Homo sapiens: one gene and its partners. The protein of the gene in region 2 purifies or fractionates together with the protein of the main gene of each other region. This does not show direct contact. Each region holds a gene or a part of one and is shown on either strand. Other genes may lie near its edges.

The links. The genes of interacting proteins can lie anywhere in the genome.
Region 1: the proteins of CDKAL1 (region 2) and CIAO2B purify together in Homo sapiens (affinity purification with mass spectrometry; 3 studies listed by BioGRID and IntAct, with this or other methods). This does not show direct contact.
Region 3: the proteins of CDKAL1 (region 2) and MMS19 purify together in Homo sapiens (affinity purification with mass spectrometry; 5 studies listed by BioGRID and IntAct, with this or other methods). This does not show direct contact.

Annotation. Positions count from the first base shown.
Region 1 is NC_000016.10:66,931,528-66,938,525, reverse strand, and holds CIAO2B (cytosolic iron-sulfur assembly component 2B), read left to right. Parts: upstream 1-4,123; 5' UTR 4,124-4,161; coding exon 4,162-4,303; exon of another isoform or gene 4,304-4,459; coding exon 4,460-4,539; intron 4,540-4,786; coding exon 4,787-4,912; intron 4,913-5,700; coding exon 5,701-5,746; intron 5,747-6,225; coding exon 6,226-6,323; 3' UTR 6,324-6,461; downstream 6,462-6,998. Other genes in the region: CES2 (cocaine esterase isoform 1 precursor), read right to left, coding at 285-489, 2,815-2,890.
Region 2 is NC_000006.12:20,530,394-20,537,470, reverse strand, and holds the start of CDKAL1 (threonylcarbamoyladenosine tRNA methylthiotransferase), read right to left. Parts: upstream 3,015-7,077; 5' UTR 2,897-3,014; intron 2,891-2,896; exon of another isoform or gene 2,272-2,890; intron 2,121-2,271; 5' UTR 2,077-2,120; intron 1-2,076. UniProt on the Homo sapiens protein: Catalyzes the methylthiolation of N6-threonylcarbamoyladenosine (t(6)A), leading to the formation of 2-methylthio-N6-threonylcarbamoyladenosine (ms(2)t(6)A) at position 37 in tRNAs that read codons beginning with adenine.
Region 3 is NC_000010.11:97,457,787-97,460,422, forward strand, and holds the end of MMS19 (MMS19 nucleotide excision repair protein homolog), read right to left. Parts: intron 2,447-2,636; coding exon 2,260-2,446; intron 1,956-2,259; coding exon 1,873-1,955; intron 1,741-1,872; coding exon 1,576-1,740; intron 1,497-1,575; coding exon 1,437-1,496; intron 1,115-1,436; coding exon 1,014-1,114; intron 934-1,013; coding exon 906-933; 3' UTR 538-905; downstream 1-537. UniProt on the Homo sapiens protein: Key component of the cytosolic iron-sulfur protein assembly (CIA) complex, a multiprotein complex that mediates the incorporation of iron-sulfur cluster into apoproteins specifically involved in DNA metabolism and genomic integrity.

The DNA.
Region 1 (6,998 bases), on a different chromosome or scaffold from region 2:
GCATAACCAGAATCTGGGGAGATACGTGTGTCTGCCCCTCCCTTCGGCACCTGGAGCCAATGTCTTCTGAATGCCAAGCCCTGATCCAGGAGTCTGAGAAGTTATTCTGCCCTCCTGAGCCTCAGCATGCTCATTGGAAAAATGCACGTGGGAATCCACGAAACTCAGAAGGAAAACTGGCTGTGGGGGTTTAGATGAAATGATAACTGCAGCCTAGCTGAGCTCAGAGCACCCCCACCCCTGCCCCAGGGCCTGGAGTTCCCTGGACCCCTTGGAGAGCTTACATGGCCGGATGGGTGGTTCCATCCCTCACACCACTCCAAGATTCAGGGGGCTCAGGGGGTGCAAATCGCAGCGGACCTAGAGGTGGCTTGGCAAATGGAATTCCCAGGAAGGTTTGGACCCCGGCATTGGCGCCCTTCACATGGACAAGACTCCCCAGCACCTGCCCCGTGTGTGTGGTCCGGATGGGACTGGCTGAGTCCTGGCCTGTGGGCAGAGAGACAGACATCACGGTTGGGTTTGACCAATCGACTGCCCTCCCAACTGTTGGTATTGCTGCTTCCTTGCCATCCTCATCTTAGCTCAAGGGACTCTGATCTGTAAACATGGGCTTTACAAACTTCCTGCCTGTAACACTCCCTTCCCGCTCTGGCTTCCTGGGCCTGTCTCCATCCCACCAGGCTGAGGCTCCTTGGGGCCAGGCATCATCATTCAGCCCTAGGACCTTCAAACAAAGGGTCACATGCCCTTGATGGGACTAGAGTGTCCTTCAACTGTGTGCCAGGTCATGTGACAGTAGGATGATGGTGGGAATTGGGCAGGCAAGTTTCTTGTCCTCAGGGATGTCATGTCCAAAGTGGCAAGAAATCATGTAAAGAAAGCATCATCCAAACCATGAGTGATGTTGGTGAAAAGAGGTGCAAGAGAAAAGTATGGCTGTGGCTGGGATATAAAAAGCACAGTGACTGGCCTGGGGACCATAGTGGGACTCTGTCTCTGCAAAAAAATCAGGAAATAAATTGGCGGGGTGTGGTGGTGCATGCCTGTAGTCCCAGCTGTAGAAAAGCCTGGCTCCAGAAAGTGGGTGAGTTTATGACTGTTTAGATGAAAATCAAGGACAAGTGCACACATCTATTCTTGTGTAAACTGCTGGGCACTGTGTGTACTGCGGTGTCAACAAGCAGTTTCCAGTGTGGGCCATGGGGACTTTGATGGCCCCTGAGGAGAAGCCAGGACTGGTTGGGTAAAAAGAGGATGGCACACATCACCTGTACCCTCCTATGGCTTGTCAATTATTTTTTCTGAATGTGGGTCCAACCCAAAATTTTGTATACATATATATTTGTCAGACAAGGTCGCCATCTGTTGCCCAGGCTGGAATGCAGTAATATGATAACAGCTCACTGCAGCCTCCACCTCCTGGGCTTGAGATCCTCCCGCCACAGCCTCCTGAGTAGCTTGGAGTACAGCTGTCTGCCACCATGCTTGACTTTTTTTTTTTTTTTTTTTGGTAGAGACAAGTCTTGTTGCCCAAGCTGGTCTCTAACTCCTAGCCTCAAGTGATCCTCCCATCTCTGCCTCTCAAAGTGCTGGGATAACAGGTGTGAGCCACTGTGCCTGGCCCAAAATATTTTAAAAGGTAGCCATCTGTGAGGCCAGGCAGATCTTCCTGCTGGGCTCCTGGTGAACTCTAGAATGTGGTCAAGGGCAGGCACGGGAGGAAGCCCTGCAGCAGTGCACCATGGGGCGGGGGGAGTATGGACTCCACCTGCGCAAATTAAATTGGGGAAGGGTTGGAAGAGACAGATCATACACTTAGGAGAGTTTCGGGTGAGAGGACCAAAGGCCGAAACACTCCCCCAGCTTCTGATAAGGGCCTGGAGAAGCCTGGCAGGCACACAGAGCCTTCACCTTTGCCCTGGAAGCCAAGTTGTGCCCTTGCCCAGGATGAGGTAAATGGCATGAGGGACACCACGAGCTCTTTGGTTCTTGTTTCTGGAGACAGATTTTTGCTTTTTCACCCAGGCTGGAGTGCAGTAGTGGGATGAAGGCTCACTGCAGCCTCAACCTCCCCTACTAAAGTGATCTCCCACCTCAGCCTCCCAAGTAGCTGGGACTACAGGTCACAGACCACCACAGCCCACTAATTTCTTTCAATTTTTTGTACACTCCGAGTCTCACTATGTTGTCCAGGCTGGCCTCCAACTCCTGGGCACAAGCGATACTCTCCCTTGGCCTTCTAAAGTGGTGGGATTAAAGGAGTGAGCCAATCGCACCCAGCCACTGTGGCCTCTTAGATCTGCTTTAGGATTTGGCGCCTGGGGGCTTCTGTTCCCCAAGGACCACTATCCTTGTCTGAGGCCCCTTTGGAGGGCTCAGGGCATCCCCCCTGGCCAAGGACGCCACACACTGAGAGCCAGATGCTGCCAGAAGCTATTACTGTTATTACCGGCCGGCAGCACCCGCTACAGCCACAATCATAAGAGGGAAATGGACTGAATCCCCACACCCCAATCCCTCACCCACTCCGACCCCAGGCTGCCTACCCGGCCTGGCATGTCCCGGCGCTCCTGGGGCCCCTGTACTCCGCTGGTTCCTTGCCGTGGTGTCCCCCAGCCCGACCCTTTCTGTGCTTCTAGGAGCCCACCTTGGGCGGCGGGGAGGCGTTGCGTGGGGCTCACGAGTTCCACGCTGTCATCTCCACCAGCTCCTACCTCCCAGGCGCCTGCCCTCCCGCACTGTCAGGTTCTGCCTCCGCAGCATTTGGCAGATCTGAGCCCGGTCCCTGTCGCCCCTCCGAGGGAGCCTCACCCTGGCCCCGGACAAGAAGCAGCAGAAGCCCACAGGCCACCGCGCTCAGCCGCGCACGAAGTCTGTGCAGCCGCATGGTCGGCTCGCTGGTCTCGGTTCGCTGCCGGCGGACACGCTGCTGTTCACCCAGAGGCTGCCCCGGGTCTGTCCAGCAGTGGATCAGTGCCTTGCCCAGCCTTGGAGTTTGGACTGGGCAGGGAGTCAGCGGGGTGCGCTGGCTTGGGCCGGGAAAGGTGGGTGTGGTAGGAGAGCGGGACTGAGCAGTCATAGGTGGGTGGGGATCTAGTGGTAGGCAGGCCCGGGCACGGCCACTTTCCTTTGCCCGGGCTCCTTTGGCATCCTCGGAAGGGGCTGTGCCATTCCTGCAGCCCTTCCGCGATCCAGGGAATCCTCTCTTCAAACCTGTCCTTGTCCACAGGCCCGATGAGCGCGCTGGGGGATCGATAGGAGGGGGCAATAAACTAGAATTGGAGACCCCAGGAGGGCTTCTCTGAGGATGTGCACGTTCAGGATCCCCCAGATGGAGAAATGGGAAGGAACTTGATCGGGGTGAAGGAACCGCTTGAGCAAAGGCAGGAAGGAGTGTCGGCGCCCTTCATTCTGGAAGTTCCTCCTTGCTTTCAGGACTCAGTTTCCTGGGTTCCCCTTCACGGCCCCTCATCTCCTTACAGTCCAGGGTCTGAGGGTCTCCGCGGTCCCCTCCCTACTCAGTCACGCCATTCTTTTGAAACGTACACGTGACCGCGGCACTTCTTAAGGAGCGCCCCCCTTTTCCTCGGTGGCTTTCAGTTTCCTCACCTCCCGCGGAGACCACGGCCATGGTCATTTATCCACTTGACAAACATTTCACGAGCCCCTGCCGGTCCAAGCTGTGGGGACGCCGTACTCCCGGGCCTATGGTGCAGCAGGGGAGGCAGGCGCGTCACCGGGAGGTCCCGAGACACTAGGATCCCTGCCAGGCCAGAGGCGACCAACCGTCCTGGATACGGGAGCTCCCGGCCAGCCTGACTTCCAGGAGGAAGCGGTGTGGGGATTACCTCCGACCGCCTTTAGTGCCCCCTGAGACCTGGTTCTGGCCTCTACGTTTCAGCCCGCTACTGGCTCGCACGACCCAGCGCCGCCGTGGTCCCTTCTCAGCGCCTTCTGCTCCAGCGACCATCATGTTCCCGGGTCCGAGCAGCCAGGGCCGCGGTCACCGCTTCTCTCGCACCTCAGGCCGAGAACCCACAACGCGGCGTGTCCCTCGCGCGACTCCGTCGCCACGCCACGCCCCCTTCCCGTTCTCCGGAAGTGCGCGGGTTGGAGCGGAAGCGCACGCCTGCTAGGATCAGCGGTGGTGGTTCCGCGATGGTAGGCGGCGGCGGGGTCGGCGGCGGCCTCCTGGAGAATGCCAACCCCCTCATCTACCAGCGCTCTGGGGAGCGGCCTGTGACGGCAGGCGAGGAGGACGAGCAGGTTCCCGACAGCATCGACGCACGCGAGATCTTCGATATCCGCCGCTGCTGGGCGCGGGCGGGTTCCGGGGGCTTGCGGTGGGGGGAGCAGTGATATCGAGCAGCTGGTGGAGCCGCATCCCAGCAGGGCGTTCCTGGCAGAGGGTTCTAAGTGGGCAAGGGCGCAGAGTCCCTTTTCCTTCACTTCCCACATCTGATTCGCTCCATCAATGACCCGGAGCATCCACTGACGCTAGAGGAGTTGAACGTAGTAGAGCAGGTGCGGGTTCAGGTGAGTCACTTCCGAGGGGAGCGAGTTGTTCCAGAGAGTCAGAAAGGTTTCTGTGCAGCAGGAGCTGGCGTGCTCTATGCTCACGAACACCGAAGGGTATCTTTGGGGAGGGAGATTGTTGTGCCTATTTTATGGGTGTTGAAACTGAGGCCCATAGAAGTTGGATGATTTGCCCAAAACAACAAACTAAGAAGAGGGACCTTGGGCTGAGGGTGGTTGACTCTTGACATCTCTCCTCCACAACCAGGTTAGCGACCCCGAGAGTACAGTGGCTGTGGCTTTCACACCAACCATTCCGCACTGCAGCATGGCCACCCTTATTGGTCTGTCCATCAAGGTCAAGCTTCTGCGCTCCCTTCCTCAGCGTTTCAAGGTCAGTTGGAGCTGAGCCCCGGGAGTGAGACCAGGCATTGAGGGTCTACTGCTGAGGATGGGGACTGGGAGAGCATGAACATGGATAGGACATCAGAGTGGGGCCTGGAAGGATCCCCATTAGCAGAGAGGAAACTGGGAGGAAGCTTTCCAAGTCGATGTGACAAGAATAAAGATCTGAGCTGGAAAGTGGAGAAAAGTATTGAAGAGTGTGGCAGGAAGGGCAGTAGGGAGCGGCAGATGGGTTTGGACCAGGGGTGGGGCACAGGCAGGCCTTTAAATCAACAGTAGTGGGCCAGTTCTTTGGATAGAATTGGAATAGCTAGGGCCGGGCGCGGTGGCTCACGCCTGTAATCCCAGCACTTTGGGAGGCTGAGGCGGGTGGATCATCTGAGGTTAGGAGTTGGAGACCAGCCTGGCCAACATGGTGAAATCTCATCTCTACTAAAAATACAAAAATTAGTGGGGCGTGGTGGTGTGTGCCTGTGGTCCCAGCTACACGGGTGGCTGAGGAAGGAGAATCAAATTGAACCTGGGAGACAGAGGTTGCAGTGAGCCGAGATTGCGCTGCTGCACTCCAGCCTGGGCAACAGAGCAAGACTCAGTCTTGGAAAAAAAAAAAGAATTGGAATACCTGTGGATGGGTTTGGGGTGTAACGGAAGGGCCAGAGTCCAAAGGCATGATTAGGAGGAAGGATCAGCTGGAGATGGTGCCTGAGGGTCTGGGGGCTGCAGGGAAAAGTGTGGGTCGGTGGGTGGGTGTTCAGGCCCTGGTTATCTCCCTCCCAGATGGACGTGCACATTACTCCGGGGACCCATGCCTCAGAGCATGCAGGTAAGTGTGGACTGGTGGTGAGGGTGTTGGCCCGGGCACCCCCTAAGCAGTCTGAGGCTTCCCCCTTGCACAGGAGTCTATGGGCAAGACTGGAGATGGGTAACTGTGTGAGTGAAATTGCCAGAGACTCCTCAGTATGGGTTATAGCCTAGACCGAAGCTGGCCTGAGAAGACTCTCCTTTGCTTACCATGTCCTCTTCTCCCAAATCCCCTCTCACCAAATATACAGGACCAGAGTGTGTCAGGCTTCAGCAGCGCAGGAGGCAGCCAGGGGGAGGGATCCTAAGAAGGCAGATTAGGTGGGCTCAGGTGGTTGAAGTAGCCTGATCAATATGTGGGGTCCTGGGAAGGAGGTGACAGGAGGGCTCTGTTGCTGCGGGGGACATATCCTATATAGAGGTTCAGAGGTAGGGCTGGCTAGCACTCTGGCCAGAGCCTAGCTTTGACTCTGCCTTCCCCACACCCTTCTTCCCACCTAGTGAACAAGCAACTTGCAGATAAGGAGCGGGTGGCAGCTGCCCTGGAGAACACCCACCTCTTGGAGGTTGTGAATCAGTGCCTGTCAGCCCGCTCCTGAGCCTGGCCTTTGACCCCTCAGCCTGCATACTGGTATCCTGGTCCCAGCTCCTGCCAGGGCTGTTACCGTTGTTTTCTTGAATCACTCACAATGAGAAACTAACATTTTGCTTTTTGTAATAAAGTTAATTTATATTCAGTTCCCAGCATGCCTTGGTGTCTTTCATCTTGGTGGAGTCATTTGGAGTTTGAGGGGGGGATGGTGGTAGTAAGTGCCTCTAAAGGGTGGTGTACTTGCAACTTTTCGTAAAATAAAATCAAAATGGAAAGAGTAGTGTACGAATGTGCCTGTATGCTCACCACCACCAGTAGAGTCAACAGTTGTTGACATATTGCAACACTGGCCATATTTATGTGTGCATATATAAATATCAGTAAGTAAGCTGCAGAGACTTGACTCTTCACTTTGAAGTACTGCAGCTCCTATAGTCAATATAAGCCTGTATAGCCACAATACTTTTATCTGATCAGAAAATGAACAGTTCCTCAACACCATCTAATACCCAGGCATATCTGGATTTCCCTAATGTGTCATCATAGTTGTTTTTGTTTTGTTTTTGAGACAAGGTCTTACCCTGTTGCCCAGGCCCAGGTGCAGTGGCAAGATTGTAGCTCACTGCAGCCTCCAACTCCTGGGTTCAAGCAATCCTCCAGCCTTGGCCTCCCAAGTAGCTTG
Region 2 (7,077 bases):
CCACGCCCAGCTAATTTTGTATTTTTAGTAGAGACGGGGTTTCACCATGTTGGTCAGGCTGGTCTTGAACTCCCAACCTCAGGTGATCCACCTGCCTTGGCCTCCCAAAGTGCTGGGATTACAGGCGTGAGCCACTGCACCCAGCGGGAAGCTTTTCATCATATCAAATCTCCAGGTTCCATTCTGAATTAGAATCTCCAAGAGTAGAACTGAAGTATGTGAACATAGAAACTGTCCAGGTAATTCCACTATAGATCCCTAATTAAGAACCACGATTCCACAGTAATGGTTCTCAATCTTCAACACTCATTCTATTCACCTGAAGAGCTTTTGAAAATTCCCAACTAAGCTTGCAGTGAGCCGAGATCACGCCACTGCACTCCAGCCTGGGCGACAGAGCGAGACTCTGTCTCAAAACAAAAACAAAAACAAAAGAAAAAAAAGAAAATTCCCAACTAAGCCCCAAGATAGCTGAATGAATCTCTGAGAATGGAGCCTGGGCATCAATATCTTTTAAAAACTTTCCAGTCATTCTCATGTGTGTACAGCCACAGTTGCAAAGCAATGTCCAGTGGTTTTCAAAGTGTAGTTTCCACATCAGCTGGAGTAGCATCATGGGGAACTTGTTAGAAATGAACATTTTTTCTTTTTCAGTTTTTTTGTAAAAACAAGGTCTCGCTTTGTTGTCCAGGCTGGTCTCAAACTCCTCCCATCTTGGCCCCTAAAGTATGGGATTACAGGCATGAGCCACCATGCCCAGCCAGAAATGAAAATTCTTGAACTCCACTCCAGACATACTAAATCAGATATTTTGAGTAAAACCTAGCAATATTTAACAGGCCCTCTAGGTGATTTTGATCTGAATTAAAGTTTGATAATCACTGTCCCAGAATTATTCTTTCATAAAAACCACCTAGAATGTATGTCAAATATACATAACCTAGACAATTCAAGGGGGAAAGCGTAGTTTTTTTTTCAACAAATGACACTGGGATAACTGGATAGCAACATGTAAAAAATAAAGTTGGAGCCCTATTTCACATTTCACATCATATACAAAAATTAACCGAAAATGGATCATAGACCTAAATTTAGGAGCTAACATTATGAAACTCTTAGAAAAAAACATAAGCACAAATCTTTATGATGTTAGAGTAGGCCCTTCTTTCTTAGCTAAGAAATGAAAAGCACAAGCAACAAAAGGAAAAACAGATTAGATGAAGAAGATACAGAAATGGGCCAGGTGCAGAGGCTCATGCCTATAATCCCAACACTGGGAAGCCAAGGTGGCAGGATCACTTCAGGCCAGGAGTACAAGGCCAGAGCCTAGGCAACACGGACCCTATCGCTACAAAAAAAAAAAAAAAAGTAAAATTTAGCCGGGCATGGTGGCATGCACCTGTAGTCCCAGCTACTTGGGAGGCTGAAGTGGGATCACTTGAGACCAGGTGGTCAAGGCTGCAGTGAGCCGTAATCGAGCCACTGCACTCTGGCCTGGGTGGCATAGGGAAGCCGTGTCTCAAAAACACACACATACAAATGGCTGATAAGCACATGAAAAGATGTCAACATCATGAGCCATCAGGGAAATGGAAATCCAAACCACAATAATACACCACTTCATACCCATTAGGATGGGTAGAATCAAAAAGACAAATAACTGTTGACAGGCATGTGGATTACATCACCCAGAGGGGAAGAAAAAGAGAACAGAGGTAGGAGAAGGTACAAGACCACGACTTGAGAGACTCCAAATTTAACTGCCAGATAAAGGAAAATCAGCTTATAATGGATTCCAAGAAGCAGCCACCAGACAAGGAAAAAAATCCATGGGCCATGGAAGGCAAATGAAAAGGGCATCTCAAAAAAGTGGACATGGTCAATGCTGGTGAATGAAAATGAAAGGTTAAGTAAAATAAATGAAAATATCTCTTCGATTTAATGCTATGTAAAGCACAATGTTTCCATAACATGATAGTGGCAAATAGCTAAAACATTAGGCTACCTCTCTGCATTTTCTAACATGCAGAAATACGCACAGCACTCAAACATAAAAGGTTTAAAATAAATCAGTACCTTAATTATCTGCAATTAGTCTAAAGTCCTCTTGAAAGATGAGTCTGGAAAATAAAAATTGATTAGGAAAAGTAAGCACCCAAAAAGTTCACAAAACCACTGTAAGGATTCTTTACTTAAAAGGAATCAGACTCCATAAAAGACTGCTTTATACAGCAGGATTAATGATGCTCCATACTACTTGTAACTTCTTACTGATTACAACAGGTGTGCTGACATCTGCCGTGACGGTGATCCAGTGTCTGGCTTTAGTAATAAATGTTGTATTCAGCACCGCAACACGTCTGCATAGTGCGAGTAACCAACCACTACAAAACAGGATTAAGTCAATAAGGTAGATAGACATCCAGATCACGTTCCATCCGAAAGATAACTGTCGTCCCGAGATTCAGAAAAAGGTTTTATGAGCAAAGAAGAACGAAAAGTGAAAAAGCAAGACACCTGCTTTTCTCAATAACTTCTGCTTAAATTCTTAACATACTGATCTGGGAAAGCTATATAACTGCGAAAGCCTTGTCACATCTACAAATTCACTAAGGTATAAAGTGGGAGAACAAATGAAGTTAAACCTGACAATAAGGAACGAGGTGCCTAAAATACTCCTAACTGGAGAGCGGCACCTGAGGCCAACGACCCTATCCTCGCTCCTGGAAGCCCCATCTGCCTCCCAATTCCCCCATCCCAGCTGGCAAATCCCCTTTTAACTGCGAAACAAATTTGCAAACAGCCCAAGAAAAACTGAAACTGGAGAAACAAGGCTTGGCCATAAAAGGAGCTGTGGCCACACTCTGCCCCACATGGACCCATCGGCCACCCTTACCCAGAAGTCGGGAAGTAAAAACCAGTCCAAAGTGAGAAAATCAACCCGCCACTCTCCGGAAGCTGCACAGACTTTAGATGGAGAGCGCCATGACACATACGTCCCGCCACGTTTATTTGCGCATGCTCAGCGACGGTGGCCCGAAGAGATCAAATTACATCATTGCTGAAAGCGCTAGTTCTGGTTTAACTTAGTTTAGGAATGACTACGCTTCAAGTTCCTTTGATTCCAAGAACTAAAATAACAACCCTGAGTCCTCGGGTTCCTAGAAATGCTTAATAGCCAACTTCTCCTAAGCTTTTATGTGTTAGACACTGTGCTAAGTACTTTGCATAAATATTATTCACTATTTATTTATTATTATTATTATTCCCAGTTTACAAAAGAGGACACTGGAAGTTTAAGGACTTAATCTAAGTTACTCTACTAGTCGTGCTGCGCTCTGGGCTGGATCCGATGCTGTCTGACTCCCAAAGAACTTGCTCTTTTCACTGCATTTTACTAGCCTCCTCAATCATTTGTGAAAAGAGGTCTCTTCTTTAATATTAAAAAAACAGGAAGGAAAGGATAAAGGTCAGTTGGTAGGTTTCACTTAATATACATCATTGAGCACCACACAAGTGTTTTTGTTTTTTGTTTTGGAAAACTTAGATGGCAGTTTAGCAGACACCTATGGAAAGAAAATACTTTTATGGAGTACGGATTCTCACCCGCTTTCTCTACATATGTTATCTCACTTTACTATTCGTTACCCAAGACACTGTATTTGACCATGTGTTTACCAGAAGAATATCTTTACTTGAAAAAGTAAAGGTAATAGGAGGCAATAGGCCATGAAGAAGGGTCAGAAATCGTGAGTTTTATGCCTGACTTAGGGTTTCATAGTGATTTGGGGCAATTACTTTGTTTTGCAAATGCCTTTCCTAGTACAATTTCATCTAATTAAAATGCCATCCATCTACTCAAGAGGCTGATGTGGGAGGATCACTTGAGCTCAGAAGTTTGAAAACAGCCTGGGCAACACAGTGAGACCCAGTCTCTAAAATAGATTTAAAAAAAAAAAAAAAAACCACCCTTTTCTCTGTTTATCCATATCCATAAAATAATCTAAACTGTGCCCTGGGGTCCACTGTTGTCTTTACCCACCTAAATTAAAATTGTGTATTTATGTTGCCCTACTTTTTTTTTTTTTTTTTTTTTTTTTTTAGATAGGGTCTTCTTCTGTCACCCAGGCTGGAGTACAGTGTTACCATCACAGCTCACTGCAACCTCTCCCTCCTAGCCTCAAGAGATTCTCATGCCTTAGCCTCCCAAGTAGCTGGGACTACAGGTGCACACCACCATACCCATCTAATTCCATCTCTTTCACTAGACCAAAAGTAGGCCCTGGGTTATCTTCTTGGTTGTAATCGCACTACCTAGCACATAACCTTGTGCCTATGTTTATAGCTTCTCAATAAACATATGTTGAATGAATGAATGAATGAATGAATGACTCCACCCCTTTTCCCCCAAGATCTAGTTGAGTTCAGTAAAAGATATTTTACTGAGTATGTACCCCATGACCACAAGCACTGTGATAGATGCTAGAGCTAAAAAGAAAGAAAAAAAGTACTGCCTATTGCAATTGCAGGCTATTTTGAAAAAATTCATTTCAGTAGAGAATAGCAATCACTATGAAAGATGAATGCACAGGAACACAAAGGTGAAGTAAGGGAAATGGATGAAGGCATTCCAAGCTGGAGAGTCAGCCAGAGCAAAAGCAAGGAGGCCTGAAATGATGAATTATTCCACAGTGTAAAAGCAAAGAGAGTGAAGCTGGTGATGGGAGAAGTCTACCAGAGAAAGGGAAGCACAGGGACTAGATCAAGGTGAACCTTGTGTATTCAAAGGCATTAGACTTAATCCTGGATGTATGTAGTAGGCAACATGAATGTGTTCGAGCAGATTATTCTCTCAGGACAATGGGTTTGAGGACGATATTTCAGACATGAAGAAATAGTAAAAGCCTAAATTGAGTTGTTGGCTGGGAGGAATGGGAAGGAAGGACAGATTTAAACAAATTGAGGAGGTAACAGCAGCAAGACTTGGTGATTGATAGGTACGAAAAAAGAGGAAGAAAGGATGTTTTCAAGTTTTGGCTACAAAAACTAACTAACAGGTGAAACCTCTCTCTTTAAGCACCTTTAGTCTAAATCCTTTGAAGTCAGTAACCCTACCTCTAGGAATTTATCTTACAGAAATATACATAATGACCTATGTTCCAGAGTATTTTTTGAAGCATTGCTTACAATGACCTATGTTCCAGAGTATTTTTTGAAGCATTGCTTACAATGACCTATGTTCCAGAGTATTTTTTTAAGCATTGCTTACAATAGCAAAAGACTGGAAACCCTCTCCGGCTCCTCCTCAATAGAGTATTGGTTAAATATATTTATAGTATCTGTACAACCTTTGAAAAGCAACCAGTAAGTCCGGGTGCAGTGGATCACGCCTGTAATCCTAGCACTTTGGGAAGCCGAGGCGGGTGGATCGCCTGAGGCCAAGAGTTCAAGACCAGACTGACCAACATGGTGAAACCCTGTCTCTACTAAAAATACAAAATTAGCTGGGTGTGGTGGCATATGCCTGTAATCCCAGCTACTCAGGAGGCTGAGGCAGGAGAATCTCTTGAACCCAGGAGGTGGAGGTTGCAGTGAGCGGAGATTACACCATTGCACTCCAGCCTGGACAACAAGAGCGAAACTCCATCTCAAAAAGATTAAAAAAAAAAAAAAAAGGCCAGGCACGATGGCTTACGGCTGTAATCCCAGCACTTTGGAAGGCTAAGGTGGGCGGATCACGAGGTCAGGAGATCAAGACCATACTGGCTAACATGGTAAAACGCTGTCTCTACTAAAAATACAAAAAATTAGCCAGGCATGGTGGCATGAGCCTGTAGTCCCAACTACTCGGGAGGCTGAGGCAGGAGAATCGCTTGAACCTGGAAGGCGGAGATTGCAGTGAGCTGAGATCGCGCCACTGCACTCCAGCCTGGGCAACACAGTGAGACTCCGTCTCAAAGAAAAAAAAAAATAATGCTTTGTTTCTTAAATTAGAGTTAAGCTTCATAAATATACACCATCCTATTTTGTTCCTGTTTTTTCAGCCAACAATATAACACTAAATGCTTTATAAATATTTGGTAATAAGTAAACAAACCAATTGGTGTATACCAAGAACATTAAAAATGCAAGTAAATCTATAAAATAATAGTAAAGCTAAGATTTTTTCAAACACTTATAAATGTGTGCCAATAACCACCCATAAGTAACCCTATAAATGAGGAGTGCTATTATTATCTTGTTATCTCTTTTAACAGAGAAGAAACCTAAAGCTTAGGCAGTCTGACTTCAGTTGTTTTAACAACTCTATATGAATACTTCAGAAGAAAGCAACAATAGTGCAAAATTTCAAATAGAGAAAAAGCATTGGAGAGAAAAAACAAAAGAGTGATCAAGGAAAAGTGGAATAAAATCTGTTTGCCTGGACCGGGCACAGTGGCTCATGCCTGTAATCCCAGCACTTTAGGGGGCCGAGACAGGTGGATCACGAGGTCACAAATTCAAGACCAGCCTGGCCAAGATGGTGAAATCCCGTCTCTACTAAAAATACAAAACTTAGCCGGGCGCGGTGGCAGGCACCTGTAGTCCCAGGTACTCGGGAGGCTGAGGCAGGAGAATCGCTTGAACCTGGAAGGTGGAGGTTGCAGTAAGCCGAGATCGCGCCACTGCACTCCAGCCTGGGTGACACAGTGAGACTCCATCTCAAAAAAAAAAAAAAAATCTGTTTGCCTTAAATATTTTATGTTGGCCTTCACAGTAAAAATTGAAGAGAAAATATGGACAAGAAAGAAGTTACACAATTCTTACCCTCTCAGTGACTAATCAATAAAGAATAAAATATGAAAATTATAAAAATCTGGGGCCAGGCACGGTGGCTCATGCCTGTAATCCTAGCACTTTGGGAGGCACAGGCAGTTGTTTCACTTGAGCCCAAGAGTTTGAGACCAGCCTGGGCAACATGACCAGACCCTGTCTCTACAAAACAAACAAAAAAGTAGCCGGACATGGTGGTTCCAGCTACTCGGGAGGCTGAGGTGGGAGAATCACTTGAGCTCAGAAGGTCCAGTTTGCAGTGAG
Region 3 (2,636 bases), on a different chromosome or scaffold from region 2:
TCTCGATGTCATGACCTTGTGATCCATCCGCCTCGGCCTCCCAAAGTGCTGGGATTACAAGCTTTACAGGCGTGAGCCACCGCGCCCGGCTCAAGTGATTCTTGTGTCTCAGCCTCCCAAGTAGCTGTGATTAAAGGCGTATGCCACCACACCTGGCTAATTTTTGTATTTTTAGTGGAGATGGGGTTTCACCATGTTGGCCAGTCTGGTCTTGAACTCCTGACCTCCACTGATCCATGCGCCTCGGCCTCCCAAAATGCTGGGATTACAGGCGTCAGCCACCATGCCCAGCTTAATTTTTTTTTTTTTTTAATTATTTGTAGAGATGGGTTCTTGCTATACTGCCAGGGCTAGTCTCAAACTCCTAGCCTCAAGTGATCCGCCTGCCTCAGCCTCCTGAAGTGTTGGGGTTACAGGCATGTGCTACTGTCCTGGTTACCCTGAAAAATTTTTGGCCAATCCCTGTCATTGTTATTCCAGTGATGCCTCTGGTTATATGAGGCATATGTGGGGTGGGGGAAATATCTGACAGCCCCATTACCAAAAGAAATCTTTATTCTTCAGCAGGTAGACAACATCTGCCAGCCCTGGTCCTCAGGGCCACACTCATATGCACTCACCCCTCAGCAGCATATCGCCCCTTTTCTGACATATAAATGCAAGAGACCCAGGACCCTAGATCTTTCTTCAAACGCAAGTGTCTCACACACACTTATTTTACAAATCCACTAGAAATATGGACTCTTATGTTCTTTGTACAGCCATGCAACAGAGGCCTAGCATTTGTGCTGTGTCTGTGGGAAAGGCAGTCAGAGACCAGTGGTTTCCCTGCTTTGGGGAAGATGGCTCAACAGTTAGTAATCCCAGGTTAGATTGTCAGAACAGTCTAGGCCAGGACTGAGGGCTCAGCTGCCAGGGCTCCCCAACAGAAACCTGTAGGCAAAAAGAAAGTTGGCAGCATTAGTGATGAGGCTCATCTTGGTCCCATCTCTCCCCACGACCTAGAAACTCACCACTCCCCTCTGGCTGACACTGCTTCCTTGCGCACCAGTCTCTTCTTGTCATCCAGGGGTTTGGCTAAGGCCCGAATCACCTGTGGTTTGTACGGCAGCAGCTGTGGAGTCAGAGGATATAATCAACCTTGCTCATCCAAGGCAACTGAAAGTACCGCTTTTTTGATTCTGTACAACTAATATTCTGAGGAAAGCAAAACATCTTTAGTGATTCCAAGGGATGTTAAGTGGCAGGATGGCCTTTCTGTTACCTTCTGGGCCCAAGGAAAAGAATCCTTGGGCCCAGAATTACAAGATCTGTACCTTGTAATTCAGATCTCAATTACACACCAGGGTGGCCAAGCCCACCTGACTAAGGCAAAAAGGTACTTATGTGTCTCTTGAGATGTTCCCAGGCCAGGGAAGGACACCTGAGGTACTTACCACAGGGGTGGGCAGGCGAGTGAGAGCATGCATGCACTGCAGTGCGGCGATCCGGACAGCCTGGAACACAACCACAAGGAGGTGAGAGCATGCCCAGGGAGAGATGCTGGTGCCTAAGAGTTGCTGGGGCTCAACGCACCATGGAAGGGCTAGAGCTGAGGTTCAGAAACTTGGTGACGAGGGTGTCCACGTGAAGACTCATGACTTGGGGTGCTTCCAGTAGAAGAGGCTGAAGGCAGCTGAGGGTGGAGAGCTGCACCACACAGTCAGGGCAGGACAGGGCCTCCAGCAGCAAGGAAAGAAGCTAAGGGGCAATGGGCAAGGTAGGGGATGGCCACATCATGAAGATCCTGGTTCTTGTTCCCTCCCCTTTCTAGCCCCATCTGGGGAAGAATAGCTTTGTCCTTTGCTTAGAAGCTCTGCCTGTGGGACTTACCGTGGGCAGCTCTGGCAAGAGTACAGGCTTGGGCAGCCTGTTAAGTACATGAGAAAGACCCTTCAAGTAGTTTGGCTTCACATCTGTAAAAAATGGAAAGGCTTAGGGGAGAAATTGGACTTAGATATATAGCTTGAGAAATCAATTCCAATCTGTGGTGAGGCTGAGACATCAGCCTACAAACGGGTGAAAGAGCCCTTCACGCTCAGAATAAGCAAGATACGCCCATGAAAGGAAGAAGTGGGACAAGAATCTAGAAGTTTAGTCTTCTAGGCACAGACCACAATATAGCTCTAAAGAAGCAAGCGGGCCCTAAATTATCTTAGGGAATGTGGCCAAGCAAAGGAGAGATGTGTATATGTGGGGACCTTCTTTCAGACTCCTCACCTTGGGGAGCAGCATGGAAGCCCTGGACCAAAGCAGGCACATTATCTGTGAAGAACCGCTGGCGGAACATGATCCGCACTTCGGCATGGCCAGCACGAGTCAGCACATCAGTGCAGTCAGACATGAGCAGAGAGAAGCCATCAGCTGCTGCTGGACCTAATTCTGGGTCACTCAGGAGGCCCATGAGCTGGAGAAAAAAGAGCCTTTGAGGTACATCAGGGAAGAAGAATCTTAAGTGCCAAAGATAAGGATGGGGCCGGGTGTGGTGGCTCATGCCTGTAATCCTAGCACTTTGGGAGGCCAAGGCAGGTGGACTGCTTGAGTCTAGGAGTCTGGGCAACATGGCCAAACCCAGTTCTTACAAAAAATACAAACAT